Linked DNA regions of Homo sapiens: all the other regions are reported to be linked to region 1. The links are microRNA targets in miRTarBase. Many come from high-throughput screens and were not tested one by one. Region 1 holds a microRNA gene; each other region holds the end of a gene's coding sequence.

The links. The annotated mature microRNA hsa-miR-200a-3p reads UAACACUGUCUGGUAACGAUGU and lies in region 1 at 5,614-5,635, shown strand. An mRNA with a match to its seed (bases 2 to 7 or 8) in the 3' UTR can be bound and repressed. Matches are read on the target gene's strand: a 7mer-m8 pairs with bases 2 to 8, a 7mer-A1 pairs with bases 2 to 7 and ends in A, and an 8mer does both.
Region 2: miRTarBase lists SPRYD4 as a target of hsa-miR-200a-3p. Seed matches in the 3' UTR shown: 7mer-m8 at 4,794-4,800 and 7mer-A1 at 1,622-1,628.
Region 3: miRTarBase lists SMAD3 as a target of hsa-miR-200a-3p. The part of its 3' UTR that is shown has no 7-base or 8-base seed match.

The regions. Positions count from the first base shown.
Region 1 is chr1:1,162,303-1,173,211 of GRCh38, forward strand. MIR200A (microRNA 200a) reads left to right here and starts at 5,561; the gene lies at 5,561-5,650. MIR200BHG (MIR200B, MIR200A and MIR429 host gene) reads left to right here and starts at 575. Exons shown (of 2, transcript XR_007065348.1): 1 at 575-956; 2 at 1,333-8,036. It overlaps MIR200B (microRNA 200b), which reads left to right and starts at 4,802; the gene lies at 4,802-4,896. It overlaps MIR429 (microRNA 429), which reads left to right and starts at 6,703; the gene lies at 6,703-6,785. It also overlaps TTLL10-AS1. RefSeq lists an enhancer at 8,504-9,071.
Region 2 is chr12:56,463,573-56,474,481 of GRCh38, reverse strand. SPRYD4 (SPRY domain containing 4) reads right to left here and starts at 5,904. Exons shown (of 2, transcript NM_207344.4): 1 at 5,806-5,904; 2 at 1-5,443. The coding sequence starts at 5,890. The coding sequence ends at 4,905. GLS2 (glutaminase 2) reads left to right here. Exons shown (of 18, transcript NM_013267.4): 13 at 888-1,019; 14 at 1,162-1,254; 15 at 1,731-1,792; 16 at 2,287-2,363; 17 at 2,646-2,709; 18 at 2,839-3,530. The coding sequence ends at 2,995. RefSeq lists enhancers at 5,057-5,186, 5,607-5,656, 5,977-6,156, 6,167-6,236.
Region 3 is chr15:67,189,716-67,194,715 of GRCh38, forward strand. It overlaps SMAD3 (SMAD family member 3), which reads left to right. Exons shown (of 9, transcript NM_005902.4): 9 at 698-5,000. The coding sequence ends at 821. Among named protein-coding and RNA genes, the nearest start is that of SMAD3-AS1, 45 kb to the left of the region's middle.

The DNA.
Region 1 (10,909 bases):
ACCGATCCTGAGACCCACCTGGGCCTACGGGGGGTCCCTTCATTGCTCCAAAATTAAGGGCTGCGGGCCTGGAGCAAAGACAGGCAGGTATGGCCCCTGCCCTCTGTCCATGAGAGGCCTCAGCCCCATGGGACAGGGCACCACCGCTGCAGGGAGGCGGCGGGCAGGTTGTGACCCCTCACCCTGGGGCCACCCTACCCGCTTCTAAGGCAGCCTGGGAAGGAGCCCTGCGGAGCTGGGGGGTGGGGAGGCAGAGGTGGAGAGGCGAGAGTTGCCCGCGGCTGCCCCTACCCCTGCCCATGTCGCCCACACTCCACACGGGCCCCACAGAAGCCTTCCCATCCTGGCTTTTGTTCAACCTCGGTGGGCGGCAAGGTGGGGGCGGGACGGAGTCTGCGGGGCCTGCGGGGCCCGGGCCTGCGTCACCGTCACTGGCCCGCCTCCCGCCCGGCCTATGGGAGCCCAGGGGACACACCTGTCGGGGGCCAGGAGCGGAGATTGGCCAGCGGGAGCTCGCACCTGTGTGGGGCGGGGAGCACTGCTCCTTGTAAGGCGAGCCCCCGCCGAGCCGGCTCTTCCCTCCCGAGGCCCCCACCTCGCCACCGCCTCCCATTGTCCCGTCGCCCTCGAAACTCTCCCAGAGACGGGCGAGTTGTCCACCTGTGCAGGTCTGAACTGACTTCCTGTGCCAGGGCCTCGCCTGAGCGGGGGCAGGAAGCTCACCCTTGCAGGTCTCCCCGCGCCAACGGACGCCCTGAGGCCTGACCCTGGCTGAGGCAGAGCACCCAGCTCCGTGGACCGGGACGGACGGGCTCAGGTGCCCCCCATTCCTTCCGAAGCCGGTTCACACCCACCCGGGCCTGGCACAGGGGAGGCGCTGGCTGCAGGGTCGGGGCGGGAGCAGCCTCAACCCGGCTCCTGGGCCGCGGCCGCAGCAGTGGAACCTGTCGGGGCAGGTAAGGGCGGGCAGCGGGGAGGCTGAGGCGCAGGGGGAGGCGGCTCCCTGCAGGGGGGCCCTCGCCAGCCCCCGCCGTGGCCGACGTGGGGCAGGGGCGCAGGTGACAGATGGGCTGTCGCCAGCCTGGCCAGCGTCCAGGGGAGCTCCGGTCACTGCAGACACAGGCTGGAGCGGGTCCTTCCCCCCCCCAGGGAAAGGTGGGCCCCTGCGCAGATGCGGCTGGGTTTCGGGTGTGGAGCCATCTTGGACCCACGGGCTGCGTCTTCCGGGCACGGGCACAGTGTGTGGGCTCCAGGCATGGGGTGCCCTCAGGGCAGGGCCTGGGCAGAGGGCAGGCTCCGAGAGGGGTCACGTTCTTGCCGCCTACCTGACAGCAGGCCTTCTAGAAAGTTCTCTCCAGAAGCAGCCACCGCCGTCCTGAGGCACTTTGTGCGGAGACGGGAAGCTGTCGCCTCAGAGGTGGGTGCGTAGAAGGGTTTGGCCGGGTGCGAGGATGACCGCGTCTCCCTTGGGCTCTGGAGTCTGCGGTGGGAAGGGCTTGGTTTCAGCACCCTCTGGTCAGAGGCCGGCCGAGCCCATGGGCGGTGAGGTTGGTGCCTGGGGTCGTGGCTGGTCTGGTACAGGTGGGGCTCAGCCCGGAGAAGCTGGAGCCGGTTCCCAGGCCCCGCGCTATGACTGGGGTGGGGGCAACGTCTCTCGTGAGGTTTTTTACTTAAATGTGAAACGGCTCAGTACGGTGGCCGCAGCCGGGAACAAGGTCCGACCCACCGAGGCCCAGCCTTGAACTTGCCGCGGGGGCACCTGAACACGGTTTTACAGCCCGGATCACTGGCTTTCTTGAAGTTTGGGAACTGATTGATCATGGTGGCGGGAGGTAAGGTTCATTGTTCTTGATGAACAAAATTCTTAGGGCGTGAAGAGCCGATGCTTTAATTAACCCCCCGGGAGCGTCTCAGGCCTCCCCCCGGGAGCGTCTCAGGCCCCGTTTACGCTGAGTGTCTGGGGAAAGACGTGGTTTGGTTTTGTTTTTCTAGTAACCCAGATGAAATGTTTAAAAGCATGGTTGGCAGCACATTGAATTTGGCAAAATTAAGGTTTGCATTTGTGAAAATGCGGATGCAGTTTGCGGTTCTTTTCAGACATTTTGGTAATTTGCAAATACTTATTTGCGAAACGAGTTTGTCAGAACATTTTTTAGTATCTAGAGGAAGATGAGATGGGCCGAGGAGGTCGCGCACCCCTGGATCCCTGGAGGAGCTGGTGTGTTCTCTGTGGGGCGGGTGGACGTGGCCCGGACACACGGGCCGTGCTCACAGCCGGCCTGCGAGGGCTGCAAATCCACGCCCGCCGTGTGGGTGAAATGGCGGCTTTGCCTCCCAGACGCGTAGCTCCGGCGACGCAGAGGGAAGAACCTGAGTGCCCGCCAGGCCGAGCTCCGCACCCCACCCCCCGGCAGCCTCTGACTCCCGGCTCGGCTCCCGCGGTCGGGGAGGGTTGGATTTCACACTTTGTTCTCGAGGCCGCACCATTGATTAAGCCCGTCGGGCAGGTTAACCAACAAGTTAGGTTTTCACGCCGGGATCACATTCCTCGCCGGGCGCTCCCACCCCACCCCAGCCTGTGCAGGTGGGACCCGGCCAGGCAGGCGGGCAGGGCGGCCAGGTGCGCCGAGGGGCGCCTCCACGGGGAGTGTGCTCCGCAGAGAACCCCTTGCTGGGGCGGCTCTGGGCCTCCTGACTCACTCCTGGATTTTCCCAAGCTGAGTCTGGCCCCGCGGTGATGATTAACCCAACACCTCAACCGGCACCGCCACGCTAGCTCCACTTCCCGGCGACGGTTGACAAGAAAGCGCCGCGTGGGGCTCTCGGAAAACAGGGAAGGTCCGTTTTCGCTTTTCATTTCTTGACCTGTGGCCACGGTAAGACTCGGCCGCCTGCCCACCCGACTCCTTGCCCCTCACCCCTGTGCCAGGCACAAGGCCCTGCGAAATCCTTGGTCCCCCAGCTGAGCCTGCCGGCCCAGGCCACCATCTCCCCACCCAGCCCTGGAGCCAGGGTCGGCCTCTCCTGCTAGCTGCTCGTTGGCTTTACAGCTTCTGCACTCAGGAGGCGCCTGGGAATCCTGCCCTGGAACTTAGGAAGGAGGCTTCTCCCACCTGCCTGCCACACGGGTCTGTCCCTGGGTCCCAGCCTCTGCCGTGTGCCCCTCAGCCTCCCGGGTGAGAACGCAATGACTGATGAGCCTGGGGTGGCCAGGCCAGCTCTGGCCCTGTGGGGTTCCTGAGAAGGCTGGCCCTGGGTGGCCAAGGGCCTGGGGACACTGGCCCCGGGCCCTGAACCTGGCAGTGGGAGGCCGGCCCGTCCGCCGGGTGGGCTGGGAACTGTGTTTGGCCCCAGCTGCAAGGGACGAGTGCCGGGCACCTGCTGCCCTCCCCACGTGACCTGGCAGCCAGGAATGGAGCTGAAATTCAACTCTGCTCTGAACGGGAAGTCTTAGTTTCCTTTAGCTCAGAAAACAGGTGAAATTGTGTTCCTGAAGCACTGATTTGATGGGATTTGATGGCATTGGTGGCGAAGGCCTGTGAGGTGATGGAAAGGGAAAGCCGGGTGCCCTGGAGCCTGACAGGCTGGGGCCAGGGCAGGGGACCTGGTGTGGGGTCTCCGGAGAGGGTCCAGGCGTGAGGGAAGCTGGGTCAGGACCTCGGAGACGTGGCCTTTGGAGGAGGAGACTGGAACCGGGTGGACCCGGCAGCAGGCGGGGGCGGGCGGACACGACCTTTGTTGTGGTCGGCGGGCAGACAGGGGAATCGGCACAGGGCCTGCGCCCCACCTACAGCCTCTGTGGGTGGAAGGTGCCAGAAAACTTGAAGAGTGGCTCTGGCCAGCTCTCTGGGCCCAGTTGGCACCAGGTGGTTGCAGAGAAAGGGTGGGAAGGAGGACAGGAAGGACGGCGTGTCCAGCGGGCGGGGAGCCTTGGTCTGGCCTGAGGGCTGAACCTCCCTCGGGTCCTGAGTGTGCCTGGAGTAGAAGCCTAGGGTCTCTGGGCTCCAGGCAGGGCCCTGAGCAAGGAGGGGCCACAGGGCTGCCCACTTCCTCCTGCCCCCCTGCAGAGGCGGCTCAGCCCTCGCGGCGTCTGAGGCTTGACTGCCTGTGTCTGTGTTTGTGGCCGGTCTGCCTCTGTGCCTGGGTCAGACCCCAGACCAGCAGACACACAAACCGCAGGGACGGCTGGGCAGGGTCAGGAGCCTGCCCCGCCCGCACCCCCACCCACACCCCCACCCCCACCCCCGCCTGCACCCCCTGCCCTCAGACGCTGTGCAGTGAGCGGGGCAGCATGGGAGAGGGGTCTCCAGGTGGCGGGGACCGTTCTGTCTCGAGAGCCTCGCAGACACCGGGCCTTTGAGAAGAGAAGGGGCTGGGCAGGGAAGCAGCTCCTGGAACACCATCCTGGAGACAGAGGCCCTTGTCCCCTGCCTCAGACAAGGCAGCACGTGGGGCCCGGGGGGCTGGGGCTGCTGTCCAGGCCTTCCTATGGGACCACCCAGAGGGAAGGTCCCCCGCAGAGGGGTGGGGGCAGAGGGCCGAGCGGGGCGGGCAGAGGGCCCGTGTCAGCCCCACTCCGACCTAGTCCTCGGCCGTCTGGCCAGGACACTTCGGCCCCCCAGGTGCCCACCCCAGGACCCAAAGCTGGTGGCTGCTGGACTCGGCAGGGCTGGCGGGTGGGGCTCACCCGGGCCCCTGCCCTCCGGCGATGCTGTCCTCAGTGCCCCAGGAGGACGAGGCCCCCCAGCTACTGAGCTTCCCAGCGAGTCCCATGCAACCCTCAGCCGGGCGGCCCCCGGACCCAGCTCGGGCAGCCGTGGCCATCTTACTGGGCAGCATTGGATGGAGTCAGGTCTCTAATACTGCCTGGTAATGATGACGGCGGAGCCCTGCACGCAGCGACCGGCCGACCCCGTCCCGGCCCCCAGGGCCTCCCGCCGAGCCCCACACTCCCCTCCCACACAGCCCGCTCACCGGACCCCACCCCGTCCGGGCCAGATGGCTCTGGGGAGAGTGACGGGGGGACGTGACCTTCGGAAGGGGGCTGGGGCGCCCCCCACCAGCATCTCAGAGACCCCGGAATGCAAGGCCTCCTGCAGCTGCACCCAGGGCGCCCCACAGTGATCTGGGGATTAGGACGCTCAGGTGTCCGGGCCCTGCCCACAGCGCCTGGGCGGGAGCTGCTGTCACACCCAGCAGGTGCGGGCCGAGCAGGACCCAACAGAGGGCTCAGGAGGGCAAGGCCCAACCGGGAGCCACGTGGAACCCAGAGGAAGCCGCCCCACCCAGCTTGGCCACAGCCATCTTCCCTCCTGCCGGACAGGGTGGGCCGGCCACCGAGCAGACCAGTGCCCCCGCCTTGGTCCCGGGTCAGCAGCCCCAGGGTCCCCTTGCCCTGGAGGAAGCAGGGAGGGTGGGCCTGTGTGCAGTCTCAGGGCCCCCAAGCCCCTCTCCGCCAGCCCTGTCCGGTCCCGGCACCACCCCTGGCTGCTCACCGCTCCGGTTCTTCCCTGGGCTTCCACAGCAGCCCCTGCCTGCCTGGCGGGACCCCACGTCCCTCCCGGGCCCCTGTGAGCATCTTACCGGACAGTGCTGGATTTCCCAGCTTGACTCTAACACTGTCTGGTAACGATGTTCAAAGGTGACCCGCCGCTCGCCGGGGACACCACCGAGGCACATCCGGAGCTCCTACTCCAGGGATGGGCTGGGGCGGAGGGCCGAGCGGGGCCAGCAGACGGGTGAGGGCGGAGGGCCGAGCGGGGCCAGCAGACGGGTGAGGGCGGAGGGCCGAGCGGGGCCAGCAGACGGGTGAGGGCGGAGGGCTGAGCGGGCGGCAGAGGGCCTGTGTCAGCTCCGAAGTCCAGCCCCCAGGGGAGGGGCCGGCCTCTGCCGGGGGTGCCCCCGGGGTCACTCACGCCCAGGCTGGGTCTGACACCTTGAGGACCCCTTGGTGCCTCCACAGGTGGCCTGGAGGGCATCCTGCTCCCCCTCCCGGAGCCGCTGTGCCTCCCCCACCCAACCTCCCAGGCTGGGTTTTAGGGTGACCTGGCTCCAGGAAAGGCCATAGGGCTGGGATGCCAGGGCTGGAGAGGGAAGAGCAACAGTGGCCTCTCTCACGTGGTCCGGGCTCCGTGGAGGGTCTGCTGGGGGCGCAGGAAGGACAAGGTGGGTTCAGATTCCCGAGCCCCACCATGCAGGGGAGCGGGGACGCTCTGCGCTTGCCCTCTGAGGGACAAGGGGTCTCATTCCTTCCCCCAGTCAACAAGAACAGGAACTTTGTCCAAAACCCACCAGGCCAGGATGACCCATTGTTTCATCTTTTCCATCTGCAACCAGGGCGCCTGGGACCGCACCCCCACACAAGGCCCCAGCCTGGGGAGGGGGCAGCCACCGGGGAGAGGCTGCCCTTCACTGTTACTCATTAACCCGACCGAGCTTCAGGAAGCCAGCGAGGGGCTGCAGGGAACCTTTGCCAAGAGCAGGGCCTGGGTGACCAGGTGGCTCCCGGGTACCCCCACACAGCCAGGCTGGGCTGGGACCAGGTGCTGGGATGGGGGCTGTCAGGGAAGTGCCTCGGGGGCTCGTTCTGCAGACCCAGGAGGGATCAGGGCAGCTGCAGGAGGTGGCAGGAGCCGCCCCCGGGGCCTTCCCTTCACAGGCCCCGCAGACACCAGCCCAGGACCCGGAGGCCACCCACACCACCGCCGGCCGATGGGCGTCTTACCAGACATGGTTAGACCTGGCCCTCTGTCTAATACTGTCTGGTAAAACCGTCCATCCGCTGCCTGATCACCGTTAGAGGAGAGAGCTGCCTGCCCTGCAGCTCATCAGTGCAAAGCCGCCCGGTCTGGGGCTCTCATGCCCCCCTCACTATGGCCTGTGCCCATCCGCAGCCCATCAGTGCAAAGCCGCCGGGGTCTGGGGCTCTTGTGCCCCACCCTCGCCATGGCCTGTGCCCACCCGGCCTCCTGGGGCCCTCGAGCTGTAGTCCCCGGGCAGATGCTGTGGACCCCGTGCTATCAGCCTGGCCCCTGGGGTCACAGTCACAGATACCCGGAGCCCCACCCCACAGCCCCAGCCCCCTCGCCACCTGGGGAGGCTGAGACAGAAGCAGCTGGGCCCCCCAAAGTGCCTGAGCCCAGGGCACGGAGGAGCACAAATGCCCAGCAGGGACAATGTCACAGCGTCTCAGCGGCCAGGCAGCAGGACGCAGAGACCTCTGGGAGGTTCCCGGGGCCAGCCCTGGCCCTCCTCCTCCAGGGGCCAGCCGTGGGATGCAGACCACACTCTCCCTCCAGGGCCCATCTCTGGGGCTGAGGCGGGCGGGGCCGGTGCCCAGCTGCAAGACCATGGGATAGGGAAGGCAGGTGCTTGGGGCCACGCAGCCCTGCACTGGGGGCCCCTCCACCCCAGGCGGCTCACGAGGTGTCATCTGGAGCTGTCCCCAAGCCGGGATCTGCAGGTTGACCTCCCCCACCCGGGGCTATCTCCAGACCCTCTTTCCTCCCTGGGGAGATGGGGCAGTCCCCCGCAGGGCCAGCTGAAACCACCCCCATGCTGCTGCCGCCTGAGCGACGTGTGTGGGGAAGAACTTGGAGTGCCACCCCCAGAATGTGGCGTCCACCTCACCAGACCGCACGGGTGAGCCCTGGACTGCAAGGTGCATATAACACAAGGTTTGGACACACCTGGAGAGCTCGGGCCAGGCAGGGCCACACCTGTGAGCCTGAGCTCATCCAACACCGCCCGGAGCTCGGGGACCTTCCCCATCCCAGCACCTCCTCACCGCTGTGCCCGTCTGGCCAGTCCCTCCAAGCACCCCTCGGATGAAGTTGCGCCCCACACTGCAGTGGGGCTCACTCTCCACAGCGCCTGCTGCGTTGCACGGGGTGTGACAGGAAGGACCCTGCTGGGGCTGGCGGGGCCGTACCCAGAGCCTCCCTGTGCGGTTTCTCCTCCTCCTCCTCCTCTCCATAAGCACCGGGAACAAAACAGAAAAAAGTCTTTGTATAGTAATAAAGTCTGCAGTTCACGCACCCATGCTTGGACCAGCTCCTTATTTTAACCACACGTGCACAGACCCCCGCCGTGCAAAGGGCCCAGCTGAGGACAGAACCCCAGACACTGCATCCGGCCCCGGAGGCCCCCAAGGTTCCTGGGAGAGGCTCCCTCCCTCCCTTCCCTCCTCTTTCCCTCCCCCTCCTCCTTCCTCTCCTCCATCCCTCCTTCCCCCTCCTCCCTCCTCCTCCTCTCTCCGTCCCTCCCTCCCTCCTTCTTTTGCTCAGGAATCTTCCCTGACTCTCCTGTGGTCAGCTCAGGTCAAGGTTCTGGGGGAAGGGGGAGTCCCTGAGTGGAGACACCTCAGCCTGTGCTGAAGGGAGCTACCGAGGGGGCAGCCGGTGGCCCTGGGGGGCCTCTCTGAGCAGGTGACCAAGAGCGTATGGTGCCGGCCAGCAGGAGCGAGGGCTGCGGACAGGATGGAGGCAGCCAGGCGCCAGCCAGGAGGGCTTCCTGGTCCAGCCACACCTGCCCCGGTGACAGCCACAGGTTGGTGGCAAAGGGGCCACCTCCCTTCCAGTGGCAGGGCCTGGCCTGCCTGGAGACCCCACCCACTGCCCGAGAGGTGCCAGGCCTCCCCCATTCTGCCTGGCCCTGGGGGCTGCACCCACCTGGACACGCGGGCCGGGCACACCCACGGCCCAAGGTCCTGCTCCCACCTGCCCTGCGCAGGAACCTTGCTGGGGCTACAGGTATCCGTGGCTGCCACACCACCCAGATTTTGGGATTAAGGGGCAGAGTTTTCAAGTTTGAACTCAGGAAAGCTGTGAGGGACGAGGTAGTGCCTGGCTGGGGAGCCTGGGGGCTTCTGAGGGCGGTGGGGAGTCCTCAGGCCTGTGTGGGGCCCCAGGGAGGGGAGGCTGCAGGGGTTGGGGGACCTGCCCGCTGCACCCCCTCTCCCCCCACACAAGGAAACCCGTCCTCCGAGGTGTGTGTCCAGATCACATCCTCCAAAGGCCGGTGCGCCACAAAGATGAACACGGGGCTCTCCCTCCCAGCCCAGGGGCAAGGACCCTGCCTTGCTCTGTTCCCGGAAGGGCCAGTTCTGGAGAGGAGCTGGGCGAGTCCTTCCCATCCCCATCAGCTCCTGTCAGGCCACCTGCCTCAGCCTCAGGGAGGAGGGGACACACGTAGGCCCCTTCCCAGAGTCAGAGCTTCCGAACCCGGATCTGCTGCTCCCAGCCTGGAGAGCCACAGCAGCCACCGAAGGAACCCCCCACCCGTCACCCCCACCAAGTGGGCCCTGCTCCCCGAAGGCCCAGCCACTCAGCCCAGGACCTGCCCCAGCCCCACCTGCCACCTGACCTGAGGCTCCCAGAGGGCAGAGGGGCCTCCTGGGTCTGCTCCGCACCAGGGTCCAGCGGGACCATCTCAAAGCTTGAGCACCAGGCGCAAGGTGGGAGTGCGGGGAGGGGACGAGGACACTGTTCCCAGCTGGACAGAACCAGGAGGACGGTGGGAGACGCCCCCCACCGCCCCGCTTCCGAGAGCTCTCTCTTCCTTCCAGGGACTCCCCAGGGACAGCCGGGGCCCCTTCTTCCCCCACAGCTCAGGCCCCAGGGACACAGAGCGGGGAACCCCCAGGCTGCCGCCCCGGCGTGGGTCGGGGAGGCGGCTCCGGAGCGGGCACCACACTCTCGAAAGGGTGGCTTCTCCTCCCGGCTGCTGAAAAACCACACAGGCAGGCACAACAACAGACGCTTACGCCCGCATCTGGAGGCCAGAACTCCAAAGCCACAGGGCAGGCAGGGCTGCACCCCTCTGGGGGCTCCAGGAGAGGACCCTGTCTGCCTCCCCAGCCCCTGCCAGCTCAGGCATCAGTGGCTGTGGCCGTGTCACCCATCTCTGCCCCCCAGTCCCACGGCGTCTCCCCCACGTCTGCGTCTCCTCTCTCCACCTCCCTCTCAGGGGGGCAGAGGCCATTGATTCAGGGCCTGCCCTGGGTGATGTCACTAGAGATCCTGACGTAACCCCACCTGCAAAGCCCCTTCTTCTAAATAAGGTCACATTCGAGGTTTCAGGGCTATGATGTGGTTGTCTTTTGGGGGCACCACCAGCCCCCTGCAAGGGGACCCTAAGCACAGAGGCCCTCGTGACCCACGCAAAGCTCTGAAGGACACGGATGGGTAGGGGACACGTGGCTGGAGGCTCAGAGTTTGAGGCAGAGGGGATCAGACCGTGCCATGGGTCATGCCAGGAGCCCAGGACTCCCAGACCTCGTATCATTAGGTGTTTTAAAGAGAAGGCGAGGGCAGGCCAGGCGCAGTGACTCACGCCTGTAATCCCAGCACTTTGGGAGGCCGAGGCGGGCGGATCACCTGAGGTCAGGAGTTCAAGAGCAGCCTGGCCAACATGATGAAACCCTCTAAAATTAATAATAAATTAATAATAAAATAATTATAATAATATAGAAAATAATATATAAAATAATAAATATATAAAATATAAAACAAAATAAAAATAAAAAATAAAATTAATATTAAAAATACAAAAATTAGCTGGGCACTGTGGTGGGCACCTGTAATCCCAGCTACTCGGGAGGCTGAGGCAGGAGAATTGCTTGATCCTGGGAGGCGGAGGTTGCAGTGAGCCGAGACCGTACCATTGCACTCCAGCCTGGGCAAAAGAGTGAGACTCCGTATTTTGAAAAAAAAAAAAGAGAGAATGTGAGGGTTAAACAAAGACACACAGAGATGGAGAAAGGGCAGCCTTACATCAACACGGGTACATTGCAAACACCTGCAGAGGTGGGGGACCAGCTGGATGCCAGAGCCCACTGCCGCCTACGGGCTGGGGTGCCTATAGGTATGGGTGGGAGCGGCCCGGGCCACACGGCTTCAGGATGAGGCCG
Region 2 (10,909 bases), not on the chromosome of region 1:
CTCTCTCAAGATAGAGGTGGAAGCTTGTTCCTGCCTCTCATTCACTAACTTCCAGGAAGGCAATTAGGTTGAGACTCCTTAGACGAGTTTCTCAAAAACACCAAGTTCCTCGAATATATAAAGAGATGTCTTTGGGAGGCCGAGGCAGGTGGATCACCTGAGGTCAGGAGTTCGAGACCAGCCTGACCTACATGGTGAAACCCCATCTCTACTAAATACAAAAAATTAGCCGGGGGTGGTGGTGTGCACCTGTAATCCCAGCTACTTGGGAGGCTGAGGCAGAAGTGCTTGAACCTGGGAGGCAGAGGTTGCACTGAGCCGAGATTGTGCCATTGCACTGTAGCCTGGGCAACAAGAGCAAAACTCCATCTCAAAAAAAAAGAAAAAAAGAAAAAGAAAAACAACCAGAGGTGTTGCAGCTCCTGAATTGTGCTTCACATTGCTGGCTCTTCTCCTTGGGGTCTCAGCTTAGATGTCATTTCCAAAGAAAGACTTTTCTGACCACCCTATCTCATGTGGCCCCCCTCTACCTCTATTTACAGCACCCTACTTCTCACTATTTATCACAATTACTTTAAACATTACGTGTCTATTTATTTACCTGTTTATTACCTATCTCCTAACACCAGAATGGAAGTTCCTAGTTCTAGCACAGCATCTAGCACAGAATGCTGTAAGTATTTCAAAAAATATTTTCTAGCTGAATCAATGAATTTAAGGGAAGGAAAGGACAGGAGTAATAAAAGAAGCTAATTAACAAGCCAAAAGGTTGAGGTGGATTGTGGTCATGCAGTCATTTGTAAACTTGTTAAGAGTACAGCCTAACTTGTTTATTTTCTGATTTGGGGCACACCCACTTTATCCTCAGCTTCAGTTCTGTTCCCCAGGTGGGCCTGCCAGCCAAGTCAGCTGTATCAGGAGCCATCCTCCTGGTGGTACCCAATGTCATGGGAATGATGTGCCTGTCACCCCCATTGGACAAGCTGGGGAACAGCCATAGGGGGACCAGCTTCTGCCAGGTGAGATGCTTTGCATATAGTACTTACTATTTTTGAAGCAATAAATTTGTTTAATGGTACCACTTTTACTATAATAAAGCAATTTTGAGCTCCTACTAAGTGTAAGGAGTAAATAAACAATATATTTGGCTTACAATTCTAGAAGTTGGTGTCTCTCTTCAATTTCCACAACTATGACAACCTGAGGCACTGTGCTCGGAAGTTAGACCCACGGCGTGAAGGGGCAGAAATTCGGGTAAGGAAAACTCCAGGTGGCTTGTAAGAATATTTCAAAGGCCAGGTGCGGTGGCTCACGCCTGTAATCCCTGCACTTTGAGAGGCCAAGGCGGGCGGATCACAAGGTCAGGAGATCAAGACCATCCTGGCTAACACGGTGAAACCTGGTCTCTATTGAAAATACAAAAAATTAGCCAGACGTGGTGGCACGCGCCTGTGGTCCCAGCTACTTGGGAGGCTGAGGCAGGAGAATCGCTTGAAACCGGGAGGCAGAGGTTGCAGTGAGCCAAGACCGCGCGCCACTACACTTCAGCCTGAACGACAGAGCGAGACTCCGTCTCAAAAAAAAAAAAAAAAAAAAGAATATTTCAGAGTAGCACATTCCATAACACTTCAGCAATACCCTTGGACTAAGCATCCATGGAGGAGGGTCACAGGGCACAGCTGGCATAGGTGAGTTCAATTAATGTCATGTGGGTATGATTTGTGTTCCAGAACAAGACTGTGGTCAACCTGTTATTTGCTGCCTATAGTGGCGATGTCTCAGCTCTTCGAAGGTAATGCTACTGTGACCAAATATACACAATAAAATACTCCTGGTCAGAGATTTTACTAGGAGGCAGCGTAACAAAATAGTTAAGTGCTTCAGCTTTGGAATTAGAATGGATATAGATTGCATTTAAATGAAATTTTTTTAAAAAAGGAGATTTTTTTTAAAAAAAGTAAACTGTCTGCTCTATGATAATTAATGTTAGCCATTGTTATTGAGTGTTAAGAGCAGTGTCCTAGGAAGTAGGTACCCTGCCTCAAATGGGCACTTACCACAGGTAGGCAGTGAGTGATATTTCTGGAAGGATCACATTCCCATCTCTCTAATATGAGTATAACAGTCTCATCTGGATATGGAAAAAAGATTATTCAGAGCCAACAAATCTGGCTATAGGCTGTTTCACTTTCTCTGAAACTCATCCAGTCTGACACCAGTTCACAAAGAACACCTGTGATTCCAGTCTGATCTAGGCAACTCTAGCTGCTTTCCCACTACCCTCAGGTTTGCCTTGTCAGCCATGGATATGGAACAGAAAGACTATGACTCGCGCACAGCTCTGCATGTTGCTGCAGCTGAAGGTACTGAAGGGTTAAGGAGGGGAGGAGGAGGGTAATCATAAGACCCTTTCTTTTTCACCAAAAGTACCTTCATTATATGTGCCCTCAAGGTTATAGGGGCAGCAACTAGTTTTATCTAGACACCCTTCGGTTTGCAGCTAGACTATGACTGAGTGCTGCAGGGTACAAAATGGGAAGAGGCCTTTTCCCCTCCCCTCTTGGTAAAGACTTCAGTGGCTAAGTGTCTGCACCAAAGGGTTCAAGACCTGCGCCTTCTCATTTTCCTTCTGCCCATATTCCTAGGACACATCGAAGTTGTTAAATTCCTGATCGAGGCTTGCAAAGTGAATCCTTTTGCCAAGGACAGGTGAGGAATAGGCTAAAAGTGGAGGAGGGTGGGCACAGCTTCTCCACCTACCCTCCAGCCACCATGCAAATATATACAACCACCACTCTCCACGTCTCCTTTGCCTGATCATATCATTATTCCTCTCAGGTGGGGCAACATTCCCCTGGATGATGCTGTGCAGTTCAACCATCTGGAGGTGGTCAAACTGCTTCAAGATTACCAGGACTCCTACACACTCTCTGAAACTCAGGCTGAGGCAGCAGCTGAGGCCCTGTCCAAAGAGAACTTAGAAAGCATGGTATGAGCACAGGTCATGGACAGCCCCTGCTCAAGAAAAAGCATGAGCTGGCCACACATGTAATCCATAACCACCAAAAATACTATGGAGAGCTACACTGCTTCAGTGGGGACCAAGCAGTCATTTGGTGACTTAGGCTAGTGCTTTCTATGGGAGTCAAAATACCCCATTCCCTCAGCAGACAGAGTACAGAGAAGGGCCTCAGAGGACACCTGCAGTACAGCTATCCAGAGAGACTGGGCTTCAAGGTACAGCCTAATGGCTTGCCCCACTCAAAACCATCCCAGCTCTTCACCCAGGTCTCCTCTTCCTCTCCCTGAAGAAACCATCATGAGAGAGATACTCTGGTGGAGGGACTCTAGCTACCATGCACATGTACATATCCACAGAATATGGGAAGTGGGAATGGCTATATACATGGCTTTAGTAGTCTGGAGAAATCTACTCCCCTTGGCCAGGACATGCTGCTGCTACTGCTAACAGCCAATTTTATAGACAGAGAAAGTATTTTGTGTTCAAATAAACTTTAATTACCAAATCATTTTTGCTAAACCCAGTCCTTCTTTCTTCCCTAGGGGTATCTAGCTTCATCACCATCATAGAAGGTAGAAAAAGATGGAATCACAGGGTCAAAGCACAGCTTCTCTACCTACCCTACCAAACAGTACATATTCACTTACCCCACCAGGTTTTTCTCAACTCCAAATACTGCTTTAGGTTAAGTGTATTCTGCTGCCAAGGGAAGCATAGGTTTGAGTCTAAACAGGCTCTGAAACAGATTGTGCAAAACCTCAGGCCTCCTTCCTTCCTCGGGAAGTTCCAACTGTGGCAGAAATGAAGATGGAACTTCTCAAGAATAAACAGTTTTGGCCGGGTGTGGTGGCTCACGCCTGAAATCCCAGCACTTTGGGAGGCCAAGGTGGGCTGATCACATGAGGCCAGGAGTTCGAGACCAGCCTGGCCAATATGGCAAAACCCCATCTCTACTAAAAATATAAAAATGAGACGGGCATGGTGGCACACACCTGTAATCCTAGCTACTCAGGAGGCTGAGGCACGAGAGTCGCTTGAACCCAAAAGGCAGAGTTTGCAGTGAGCCAAGATCATGCCACTGCACTCCAGCCTGGGTGACAGAGTGAGACTCTGTCTCAAAAATAAATAAATAGTTTCTAGCACTCATCCCCTAGATATCCCCCAAGTGTCTCTCTTCCCCTTTGGTCAAGGTTATAACTGGGATAATGATTATGACAGACTGGCTGGGTGTCAGAGGTACAGATTTAAGGTAGATGGACTCAGGGTAAGGATAGCTACAGCTGTGTGGGGCTGAAGGTCTGTGGCACTGAGCTACTGGGGAAGGAGGGCTCTGTTTTCATTTTGACACACTGAGTTAATAAAGCACTTACTGAGGGAGCCAGAGCCCAAACTCTAAATGTGCTGTAGAAAAAGGGCCAAGTCATTGACTGCACCACTCCTTCAGCCAGAGGTAGAAAGGATTTACTCTTCAGCCATCTGGTAGAGCCCCAAGAACAAGTTACATGTGGACAAAGGGAGGGAGAGGTATCATGGTGATTAATAAATTCAAACAAAGCTGAATGATAAGACCCCAGGATGGAATACAGTCTGAGAAAGGCCTGGGCAAAGGGAGGCAGAGGGACTGAAGGAAGCAGGTCAAGGAAGATACACCCATGGTAGCCTAGGAAATTGGCAGTAGTTGGTGGGTGGGGAAAAGGAGGGTTTGGCTGTATGCCTAGCTTTCACAAGGTAGGGGATGAGGAAGATGATCATGATATTGCACAGAGGACCCAACACTGAATTGTGGGAGCTAGAGGTTGCTTGAGGCAAAGTAAAAAGGCTTCGGACACTTTCAAAAGGAGGCTGGCCAAAGGCGTGATTAGGGACTCCAGTAATGGACATACTAGAGGCCCTCGGGCACCTCAAGCCCTGAATGGGTCAGCAGCTCCCCATCCCAGAGAGCAAAGGCAGGCACCACTGGACCCCGGAAATCTGTCTGTAGCGTGTGAACCACAGAGACCTGGCTCACATCCACCAGGCTCAGCTTCTGGGCCTCATACTCCAGCAACAGCCCCACCTTCTCTGGCTGCCCAATACCCTCAACTGGGGCTTTCTCGTTGGCCAACATGGTGTACCACTTGCGCTGGGCATAGGTGAACACCCAGGAACGATCATCAACACCAATGCAGCTATCCCGGGACATGTCCACATCTGCCACTCCTATCCGGAACTGCTGGGAGCGCTTCACTGTCACTTCCCAGTAGTGTCTGCCACTGGTGACCGCTGTGTCTGCCAGCACCACTGCCCACTCCCGGAAGCGCTCCACATTCAAGGCCACCTTGGTGGGCTCCAATCCCACCAAGCCATATTTGACACCCGTATCATCTCTGAAGAGTGCCAGGCTGCTGTGGGCGGTTTTTTCTTCCAGTTTGAAACTGACGCCTGCGGGCAGAGCAAAAAGACGGGATAATAACAGGGGCTAGAACCCTAGGGCTGGTGATATATTCAGATATGAGGCAGGCAGCCATGATACACGAGCAACTAGGGAAGAGTCAGAATGCCAAGCGGGCAAGAGAGTCGCGAGGTCGCTTTACTACGGATAGCTCACGGAGCTGAAAAACTCGGATTGAGTAAGTCCCGGAATTTAAAGAAACCAAATGGTATCACAGGTTTGGAATCTTAAGACCAAGGCAGGTGGGGAAGGAAAAGACCCGAGAGGGTTGGAGTTGCTTCTCGGAGTGGGGTCTGGGAATAATAGACGGCAGCCATTCTGGAGGTAAAAGAGTAAAAAGAGATAATCCTACCTCTCTGGGCCTCTGTGGAGGCAACTCCCAATCGTTTGGCTCCCCAGCGGCACAAGCGCAAAGAACGTGCAAAAAGCAGCGCCATCTTGCGCCTTGGATGAACCGGGCACGCCTCCCGCTTACAGACACAGCCATCTGCCCGCCCGCTCCCCTAGCACGTGGTGCGCGAGGGGCGGCCGCGCAGTGTTATGACGTAGGCGACGCCCGGGGGCGGGCGGCCGCCAAGGTAGTGGTTTCTGTTCTGTTTCTGCCCGCGGTTAATGCTGCTTATTCAGTTTTTCTGCGTAGACGAACGCTGCTCACATTTGAACTACGTAAAACTTTTAGAGATATAGTGTAGCCAGATGCTTAGAAGTATAGATTTTAAAATTAGACAGTACTGTAATTAGCTTTGATCCCGGCTTCACTGTGTGAGTTTGGGCAACTCACTCCACTTTTCTGAGCCTTAGTGTTCTAATTTATAAAATAGAAATTATATACAGACCTTAGTAATAATTAAGTGAGAATAATCTAGGCCGGGCGCGGTGGCTCACGCCTGCAATCTCAGCACTTTGGGAGGCCGAGGCAGGCGGATCACGAGGTCAGGAGATCAAGACCATCCTGGCCAATATGGTGAAACCCCGCCTCTACCAAAAGTACAAAAATTAGCCGGGCGTGGTGGCGCGCGCCTGTAATCCCAGCTACCCGGGAGGCTGAGGCAGGAGAATCGCTTGAACCAGGGAGTGGGAGGTTGCAGTGAGCCGAGATTCTGCCACTGCACTCCAGCCTGGTGACAGAGCAAGACTCCATCTCAAAAAATAATAATAATTAATCTAGATATATATTGGCAAATAGCAACCATTGGGTAATTCACAGTTGTTTATAATTAATAGTAAATACATAAATACTGTTAATGTTGGTTTTGTATGTTCAAGGCTAGGAACGGATGGTTTAACTCAGCATTCAGTTTTCTGAACTTAACCAAGAGTAGCAATATTTTGGTTCAGGGTATGAGGTAGGAGATTATGGACAGCCTATATTGAACATTTCGATCTGCATTCCATTTTATTTTATTTTTTGAGACAGGGTCTCATTCTGTCACCCAGGCTGCATGCAGCACAGTGGCGCAAACACAGCTCACTGCAACCTTCATCTCCGAGGCACAAGCGATCTTCCTGCTTCAGCCTCCCATGTAGCTGGGACCACATGTGCACGCACCATGCCCCGTTAACTTTTTTGTAGAAACGGGGGTTTCGCTTTGTTGACCAAGTTGTTCTCGAATTCTCGGGCTCAAGCCATCCTCCCACCTTTGCCTCCCAAAGTGCTGTGATTACAGGTGTTAGCCACTATGCCAGGCCTACATTTTTTTAATCAGTCCACTTCTCAAGGTTCTGCTGGCCAGTGCAATAGCAACATACATCCCACCTCCATCCTCCTACCCCTCAAAAAAGGATTTTAGATATATATTTTTAAAATGTATATTCTGAGACGGAGTGTCACTCTATCACCCAGGCTGGAGTGCAGTGGTTTGATCTTGGCTAACTGCAGCCTCTGCCTCTGGAGTTCAAGCAATTTTCCTGTCTCAGCCTCCTGAGTAGCTGGAATTACAGATGCCCACCAACCACACCTGGCTAATTTTTTTTTGAGACTGAGTCTCACTCTGTTGCCCAGGCTGGAGTGCAGTGGCGCAACCTTGGCTCACTGTAACCTCCGCCTCCCGGGTTCAAGCAATTCTCTTGTCTCAGCCTCCTGAGTAGCTGGGACTACAGGCGCATGCCACTACGTCCGGCTAATTTTTGTATTTTTAGTAGAGACGGGTTTCACCATATTGGTCAGGCTGGTCTCAAACTCCTGACCTCAGGTGATCCACCCATCTCAGCCTCCCAAAGTGCTGGGATTACAGACGTGAGCCACTGCACCTGGCCTAATTTTTGTATTTTTAGTAGAGACAGGGTTTCACCATGTTGGCCAGGCTGGTCTCGAACTCCTGACCTCAAGTGATCCACCCACCTTAGCTTCCCAAAGTGCTGGGATTACAGGTGTGAGCCACCACACCTGGCTTCTGGCCTAGATATTTAAAAGCCTAAATAACTAACCAAAAATTCTTCCTCCTCTCCCAGAGTGGTAACTGCCTTGAATGATGCACATGGCCCTAGTTCAGGCCACTGTCATCCTTGGCCTTAAGGCTTTCTCATTTCTTTTATTTATTTATTTTATTTTATTATTTTTTTTATTGAGACTGAGTCTCACTCTGTCACCCAGGCTGGAGTGCAGTGGCAGAATCTCGGCTCACTGCAACCTCCACTGCCCAGGTTCAAGCAATTCTCCTGCCTCAGCCTCCTAAGTAGTTGGGACTACAGGCGCCCACCACCACGCCCTGCTAATTTTTGTATTTTTAGTAGAGACAGGGTTTTGCCATGTTGGCCAGGCTTGTCTCAAACTCCTGACCTCAGGTGATCTGCCCGCCTCTGCCTCCCAAAGTTCTGGGATTACAGGCATGAGCCACCGCGCCTGGACAAGGCTTTCTCATTTCAATGTAGAAATGTGAGTAGCTTCTAAGCTGATCTGCCAGCTTCTATCTGTCTGCTTCTAATTCAATGTCGGCATTACAGTCAGACATGCAACCTCCCTGCTTAAATCTGTTAATGTGCCTGCCTCAAATTCCCTTACATGGTCACAAGGCTTTACATGATATGACTACTGCCTACCTTCTTTGTTCGTTTTCACAAAACATGATTTCTTCAAGAGTTCACAGGGCCATTGCAGTATAATTCACTAGGTGCCATGATTGAAGTCATACAGGATGCTCAGGAAACAAAGGAGAAACCTCTGATTTAGTATATTTGAGAGTGGTGGGAAGAGACTTCCCAAAAGCCATACCTATGGCTTGAAAAGCAGAAATGGTTAAGCAAGTGAGGGAATCTCATGAATTGCAACCCATATTCAGCCAGTTGCCCAGAAACCATGGAGTCCTTGGCTTGTCTGTCTCCTCTCACATATCTGATTGTCACTGAATCCCTATCACATTCCCCCTACTCCTACCAGCCCCCACTGTCAACTGCATCAGCCGTCTAACTTGTCTCCATTCTCCCCAGTGCTGCTGAGTGAAACCTATATCACCCATTAGGTTGTGAATCCTTTTTTTTTTTTTCTGAGACAGAGTCTCACTGTGTTGCCCAGGCTCAAGTGCCGTGGTGTGATCTTGGCTCACTGCAACCTCCGCCTCCCAGGTTCAAGCGATTCTCTTGCCTCAGCCTCCTGAATAGCTGGGATTACGTGCACCTGCCACCACACCTGGCTAATTTTTTTGTATTTTTAGTAGAGATGGGGGTTTCACCATCTTGGTCAGGCTGTTCTTGAACTCCCGACCTTGTGATCCACCTGCCTCAGTCTCCCAAAGTGCTGGGATTATAGGCATGAGCCACCACTCCCGGCTTAGGTCATGAATTCTTAAGAAAGGTGATTAAATACTGTGTTCTCTTTGCCCCAGGGCCTTAGTGTTCCCTTTACCACAGAATATGTGCTCATTAAAACGAATGAGTATAAAAGGAGAGGGTGGTTGGGCATGGTAGCTCATGCCTGTAATCCCAGCACTTTGGGAGGCTGAGGTGAGAGGATCACTTGAGCCCAGGAGTTCGAGACCAGCCTGGGCAACATAGGGAGACCGTATCTCTACAAAATAAATTTTAGAATTAGCCAGGTGTGGTGGTGCACGGCTGTAGTCCCAGCTAATTGGGAAGCTGAGGCACGAGGATTGCTTGAGCCCAGGAGGTCGAGGCTACAGTGAGCCTGGGCAACGAAGTGAGACCCTGTCTTAAAAAAAAAAAAAACAAAACAAAAAAAAAGTTTTGTTCCCATATTTTTTGGACTGCAGTGGCTCATTCTCTCCACCAGTTTTTTTTTTTTTCTTTTGAGACAGAGTCTGGCTCTGTCACCCAGGCTGGAGTTCAGTGGCGTGATCTCAACTCACTGCAACCTCCGCCTCCCAGGTTCAAGTGATTCTCCTGCCTCAGCCTCCCGAGTAGCTGGGACTACAGGCATGCACCACCATGCCTGGCTAATTTTTTGTATTTTTAATAGAGACGGGGTTTCACCGTGTTGGCCAGGCTGATCTTGAACCCCTTTCCTCAAGCGATCTACCCGTCTTGGCCTCCCGCCCGGCCTCGCCACCAGTTTGGAGTGCAGTGGCCCATTGTCTCCACCAGGGGTCAGCATGGCCCAGACTTTTCAGTCAGCTAAATAACGTGAGAAGAGAGCTTAGAGATTTCCTTCAGCAAAGTCCTGCTCTGTCAATACTTTGCATTTTGGTAGTAATGGGAAGGTTCCAGGATTGTGTTTCTGTAGGATTTCCCCTTTGGTTCCTGTGAGAGCTGAAGCAATCACTACACATCCCTCACACCGTCACTTAAGACACATCCATTACTTTATTCCTTATTCAGGGAATAGCCTTGCTTGTCATCTCTTGTATTATTTACCTTTTACAGGCTGACCATTCATTTGATAAATTCACCTTCCTCATTCAGATGATTTAGCTGCCTCGTTGCTCATTGTAATTATAATTCTTTTTTTTTTTTAAACAGATTCTCGCTCTGTCACCCAGGCTGCAGTGCAGTTCAGCTCACTGCAAACGCCGCCTCCTGGGTTCAAGCAGTTCTCCTACCTCAGCCACCCAAGTAGTTGGGATCACAGATGCGCACCACCATGCCTGGCTGTATTTTTAGTAGAGACGGGGTTTCACCATGTTGCCCAGGCTGGTCTCGAACTCCTGGCATCCAGTGATCCGCCCACCTCAGCCTCCCAAAGTGCTGACCACACCCAGCCTATAATTCTTAACTTAAATGCAAAATAATTAGAATATGATAGAATTTTACTTAACAGACAAAACGGGAAAGACATTGAGGCAACAGGAACAGCTTAGACTAACGCACTGGGTTATGAAATTTAGAACAGAGTATTGGAAGGAACCACAAGGAACACAATATTGCCAGAGTCTCATGTTGGGGAGACAAGGAAAGCAGTTGGAAAACTTGAGGCTGGATGATGAAGTGGCTTACATGCCGTGAGAAGGAGTTTAGACTGTCTTTCAGGCATTCAGGAACTGTTGAAGGGAACACAGAGAAGTTAC
Region 3 (5,000 bases), not on the chromosome of region 1:
CTCAGTGGAGGCCTTTGGGAGCCTGCCTGCAAGCTGCGTCATCAACCAGCCTGAATTTAGACAAAGTGCTTTGGGGAAAAGAAACGTGTGGTGTGCCTTGTTTTTTTCCAGTAATTGTTCCATGGCTCGTTCTGCTTGTAAGATTTTCCAAAATAAGGCCGTAGATGAGAATTATATCAGCACATTGGGAACCGAAGGCATGCGGACACTGTTGGCGCTTTGTAAAAAACACCCCTCAATCAGACAGACACACGTCATCGTCGCCTGCTGGGGCTGGGCCCAGATTTCGAGATAGGGGAGCGGCACGTGCCCGTTTGGTACAGATGGGAGCCAGGAAGCCCTTTGCTCAGGATGGAGGTCTCCTCTATTAGGGGGCCTGTTACAGTAACTGGTGGGCCTCTGGGGTACCCTGCAATTGACTTTACATATTTAACTCTTTGCCATTGACTTTACATGTTTAACTCTTTAAAGTCGACTTCCTTCCCCCTCAAGAGAACTTAATTTACTCAAAGTCCTCCCTGGGTAGAGGAGTTTGGCCGGGTAGTTTCAGCAAGTTACTGGTACCGCTTCTAGGACAGCGTCTAACAGCATCTTTGGGAAGATGACTGTCACCAAAGCAGAAAAAGCTTTCTGACTTGTGTAACCCCCTGGAGATTTTTTAAGTCCCCCACCCCACCCCTTTCCCTATTTCTTACAGGAGACAGACTGTGACCAGTACCCCCTGCTGGATTGAGCTGCACCTGAATGGGCCTTTGCAGTGGCTTGACAAGGTCCTCACCCAGATGGGCTCCCCAAGCATCCGCTGTTCCAGTGTGTCTTAGAGACATCAAGTATGGTAGGGGAGGGCAGGCTTGGGGAAAATGGCCATGCAGGAGGTGGAGAAAATTGGAACTCTACTCAACCCATTGTTGTCAAGGAAGAAGAAATCTTTCTCCCTCAACTGAAGGGGTGCACCCACCTGTTTTCTGAAACACACGAGCAAACCCAGAGGTGGATGTTATGAACAGCTGTGTCTGCCAAACACATTTACCCTTTGGCCCCACTTTGAAGGGCAAGAAATGGCGTCTGCTCTGGTGGCTTAAGTGAGCAGAACAGGTAGTATTACACCACCGGCCCCCTCCCCCCAGACTCTTTTTTTGAGTGACAGCTTTCTGGGATGTCACAGTCCAACCAGAAACACCCCTCTGTCTAGGACTGCAGTGTGGAGTTCACCTTGGAAGGGCGTTCTAGGTAGGAAGAGCCCGCAGGGCCATGCAGACCTCATGCCCAGCTCTCTGACGCTTGTGACAGTGCCTCTTCCAGTGAACATTCCCAGCCCAGCCCCGCCCCGCCCCGCCCCACCACTCCAGCAGACCTTGCCCCTTGTGAGCTGGATAGACTTGGGATGGGGAGGGAGGGAGTTTTGTCTGTCTCCCTCCCCTCTCAGAACATACTGATTGGGAGGTGCGTGTTCAGCAGAACCTGCACACAGGACAGCGGGAAAAATCGATGAGCGCCACCTCTTTAAAAACTCACTTACGTTTGTCCTTTTTCACTTTGAAAAGTTGGAAGGATCTGCTGAGGCCCAGTGCATATGCAATGTATAGTGTCTATTATCACATTAATCTCAAAGAGATTCGAATGACGGTAAGTGTTCTCATGAAGCAGGAGGCCCTTGTCGTGGGATGGCATTTGGTCTCAGGCAGCACCACACTGGGTGCGTCTCCAGTCATCTGTAAGAGCTTGCTCCAGATTCTGATGCATACGGCTATATTGGTTTATGTAGTCAGTTGCATTCATTAAATCAACTTTATCATATGCTCTTTTAAATGTTTGGTTTATATATTTTCTTTAAAAATCCTGGGCTGGCACATTGACTGGGAAACCTGAGTGAGACCCAGCAACTGCTTCTCTCCCTTCTCTCTCCTGAGGTGAAGCTTTTCCAGGTTTTGTTGAAGAGATACCTGCCAGCACTTCTGCAAGCTGAAATTTACAGAAGCAAATTCACCAGAAGGGAAACATCTCAGGCCAACATAGGCAAATGAAAAGGGCTATTAAAATATTTTTACACCTTTGAAAATTGCAGGCTTGGTACAAAGAGGTCTGTCATCTTCCCCCTGGGATATAAGATGATCTAGCTCCCGGTAGAGGATCACCGGTGACAACTATAGCAGTTGTATTGTGTAACAAGTACTGCTCCCAGCAGCAATTAGGGAGAAAACTAGTCTAAATTATTTCAACTGGAAAAAAGAAAAAAGAGTCCTCTTCTTTTCCCAGCCTTTTGCAGAACACAGTAGACAGAACTGCCACCTTCAATTGGTACTTTATTCTTTGCTGCTGTTTTTGTATAAAATGACCTATCCCACGTTTTTGCATGAATTTATAGCAGGAAAAATCAAGGGATTTCCTATGGAAGTCCTGCTTTATTCCAGGTGAAGGGAAGGAAGTGTATATACTTTTGGCAAGTCATACAGCTCAAATGTGATGAGATTTCTGATGTTAGAGGGAGATGGAGAGGCTTCCTGATGCCTCATCTGCAGGGTCCTGTGCCTCTGAAGTTCTAGCCATGAGGTTTCCAGGTAGGACAGCTGCTCCCCAAGCCTCCTGAGGACACAGGAAGAGACGGAAGGAGCACCTTGACAGACTTGTGTGAGTCTTCTCGAAGGAGGGTTGACTCAGAACCCAGAGACAATACAAAACCCCTCACTTCCTCTGAGAGGGCCAAATGCTGTGAGTCTGAAGTATGTGCCTGGTGTGAAATGATCTATGGCCTGTTTCTTACACAGGAAGCCCCCTGAACCTCCTGTACATGTGTTCATGTTCCCAGCCAGCTCTGAGACCCAGGAACCAAATATTCCATTTTGGCTTCTGCTAGAGCAGTCATGGTTCCTCTCCTAAAAGCCATGGGCAGCAGTTTCCGAGGGCCTGCATGATCCACCTGCTGCACGATCCTATGAGGGCTTCCTGTGGCACACAGCCCTCTGGGTGCTTGGGAACTAGCTTCAGGCACAGCCTGATTCTGGTGATCCAGTGATCTATGGAAGTCGTGTCTTACTCCAGGTGAAGGGGGAAAAAAAAAGCCTATACTTTGGCAGGTTATGAACTTTGAATGTGATGAAATGACACGTTTGGCTGCATTTGGATGGTGTCTTAGAACCCTCATTGCTCAGACCTGAAGGCTACTTCTAGGAGCATGAAGTTTGAGTTTTGTGTTTTTCCAAAGGATACTTCCTTGGCCCTTTTTCTTTATTGACTAGACCACCAGAGGAGGATGTGTGGGATTGTAGGCAAACCCACCTGTGGCATCACTGAAAATAAATTTGATCATACCTAAGAGGTTAGGAAATGGTGCCATTCCCACCTTAGAGTGCTACATAGGTGCTTTGGGCGTATGTAACATTAGTGTCCTTCCTTGAAGCCACAAGCTAGTTTTCTTAGTTTTAAAATCCTGTTGTATGAATGGCATTTGTATATTAAAACACTTTTTTAAAGGACAGTTGAAAAGGGCAAGAGGAAACCAGGGCAGTTCTAGAGGAGTGCTGGTGACTGGATAGCAGTTTTAAGTGGCGTTCACCTAGTCAACACGACCGCGTGTGTTGCCCCTGCCCTGGGCTCCCCGCCATGACATCTTCACCTTGCAGCTTGTGCTGAGACTGACCCAAGTGCAGCTAGCACTGGGACACAGATCCTTGTCTTCAGCACCTTCCAAGGAGCCAACTTTTATTCCCTTTCCTCTCTCCCCTCCCCACCTCGCTTCTTCCCAATTTAGTAACTTAGATGCTTCCAGCACATACGTAGGTAGCTACCCCAGCCGGTTTGGATTACAGGCCTGTGCTGGAACATCATCTCAGTTGGCCACCTTCCTGGCAGGCTGTAGACCTGACATTTTGAGACAAGCCTAGAGGAGTCAGGAGCAGGGACTTTGACTCTTAGGAAGAGCACACATGAGGGCAAGGCTGCTGGCAGACGTCTCCATTGTCCTTATGTTGTCTGTGTTGTATTTTTTTTTTTTTATTGACCATGGTGATTATTTTTTTAAACCATCGTTAATATACTGAAGTGAGCTATAGCACATATCATGTGCTTAGTTTGTTTATTTTTCTCCATCTCCCCTTGGCTTCCTAGAGTTTGGACATATTCCAGGCTAAATGCTTTTACTCAAGACTACAGAAAGGTTTGAAGTAGTGTGTGCATGGCATGCACGTATGTAAGTAATCTGGGGAAGAAGCAAAGATCTGTTTCATTCTTAGCCTCAGGCCTCATGAGGGTCTCCACAGGGCCGGAGCTCAGGTTACACCACTCCTTCGTCCTTACAGGAGATGTAGGGAGAAGAATCTGCAGGCTGCTTGTAGGACTGTTCACCAAGGGGGATACCAGCAGCAAGAGAGTGCACCCGTTTAGCCCTGGACCCTGTTTCTTACTGTGTGACTTGGCTAGAGTTGGGAGTTCCCCCAAAATAAACGTGTCCCCATTTTACCAGAACCAAACCTCAACACAGCGAAGCTGTACTGTCTTTGTGTGGCAAAGATGTTCCCTTGTAGGCCCCTTTCAGGTAACCGTCTTCACAATGTATTTTCATCACAGTTTAAGGAGCATCAGCCGCTTCTCAAGTGGGTAGGGAAAGCAGAAAAACGTACGCAAGAGGACATGGATCCAAAATGATGATGAAGCATCTCCCATGGGGAGGTGATGGTGGGGAGATGATGGGCTAAACAGGCAACTTTTCAAAAACACAGCTATCATAGAAAAGAAACTTGCCTCATGTAAACTGGATTGAGAAATTCTCAGTGATTCTGCAATGGATTTTTTTTTAATGCAGAAGTAATGTATACTCTAGTATTCTGGTGTTTTTATATTTATGTAATAATTTCTTAAAACCATTCAGACAGATAACTATTTAATTTTTTTTAAGAAAGTTGGAAAGGTCTCTCCTCCCAAGGACAGTGGCTGGAAGAGTTGGGGCACAGCCAGTTCTGAATGTTGGTGGAGGGTGTAGTGGCTTTTTGGCTCAGCATCCAGAA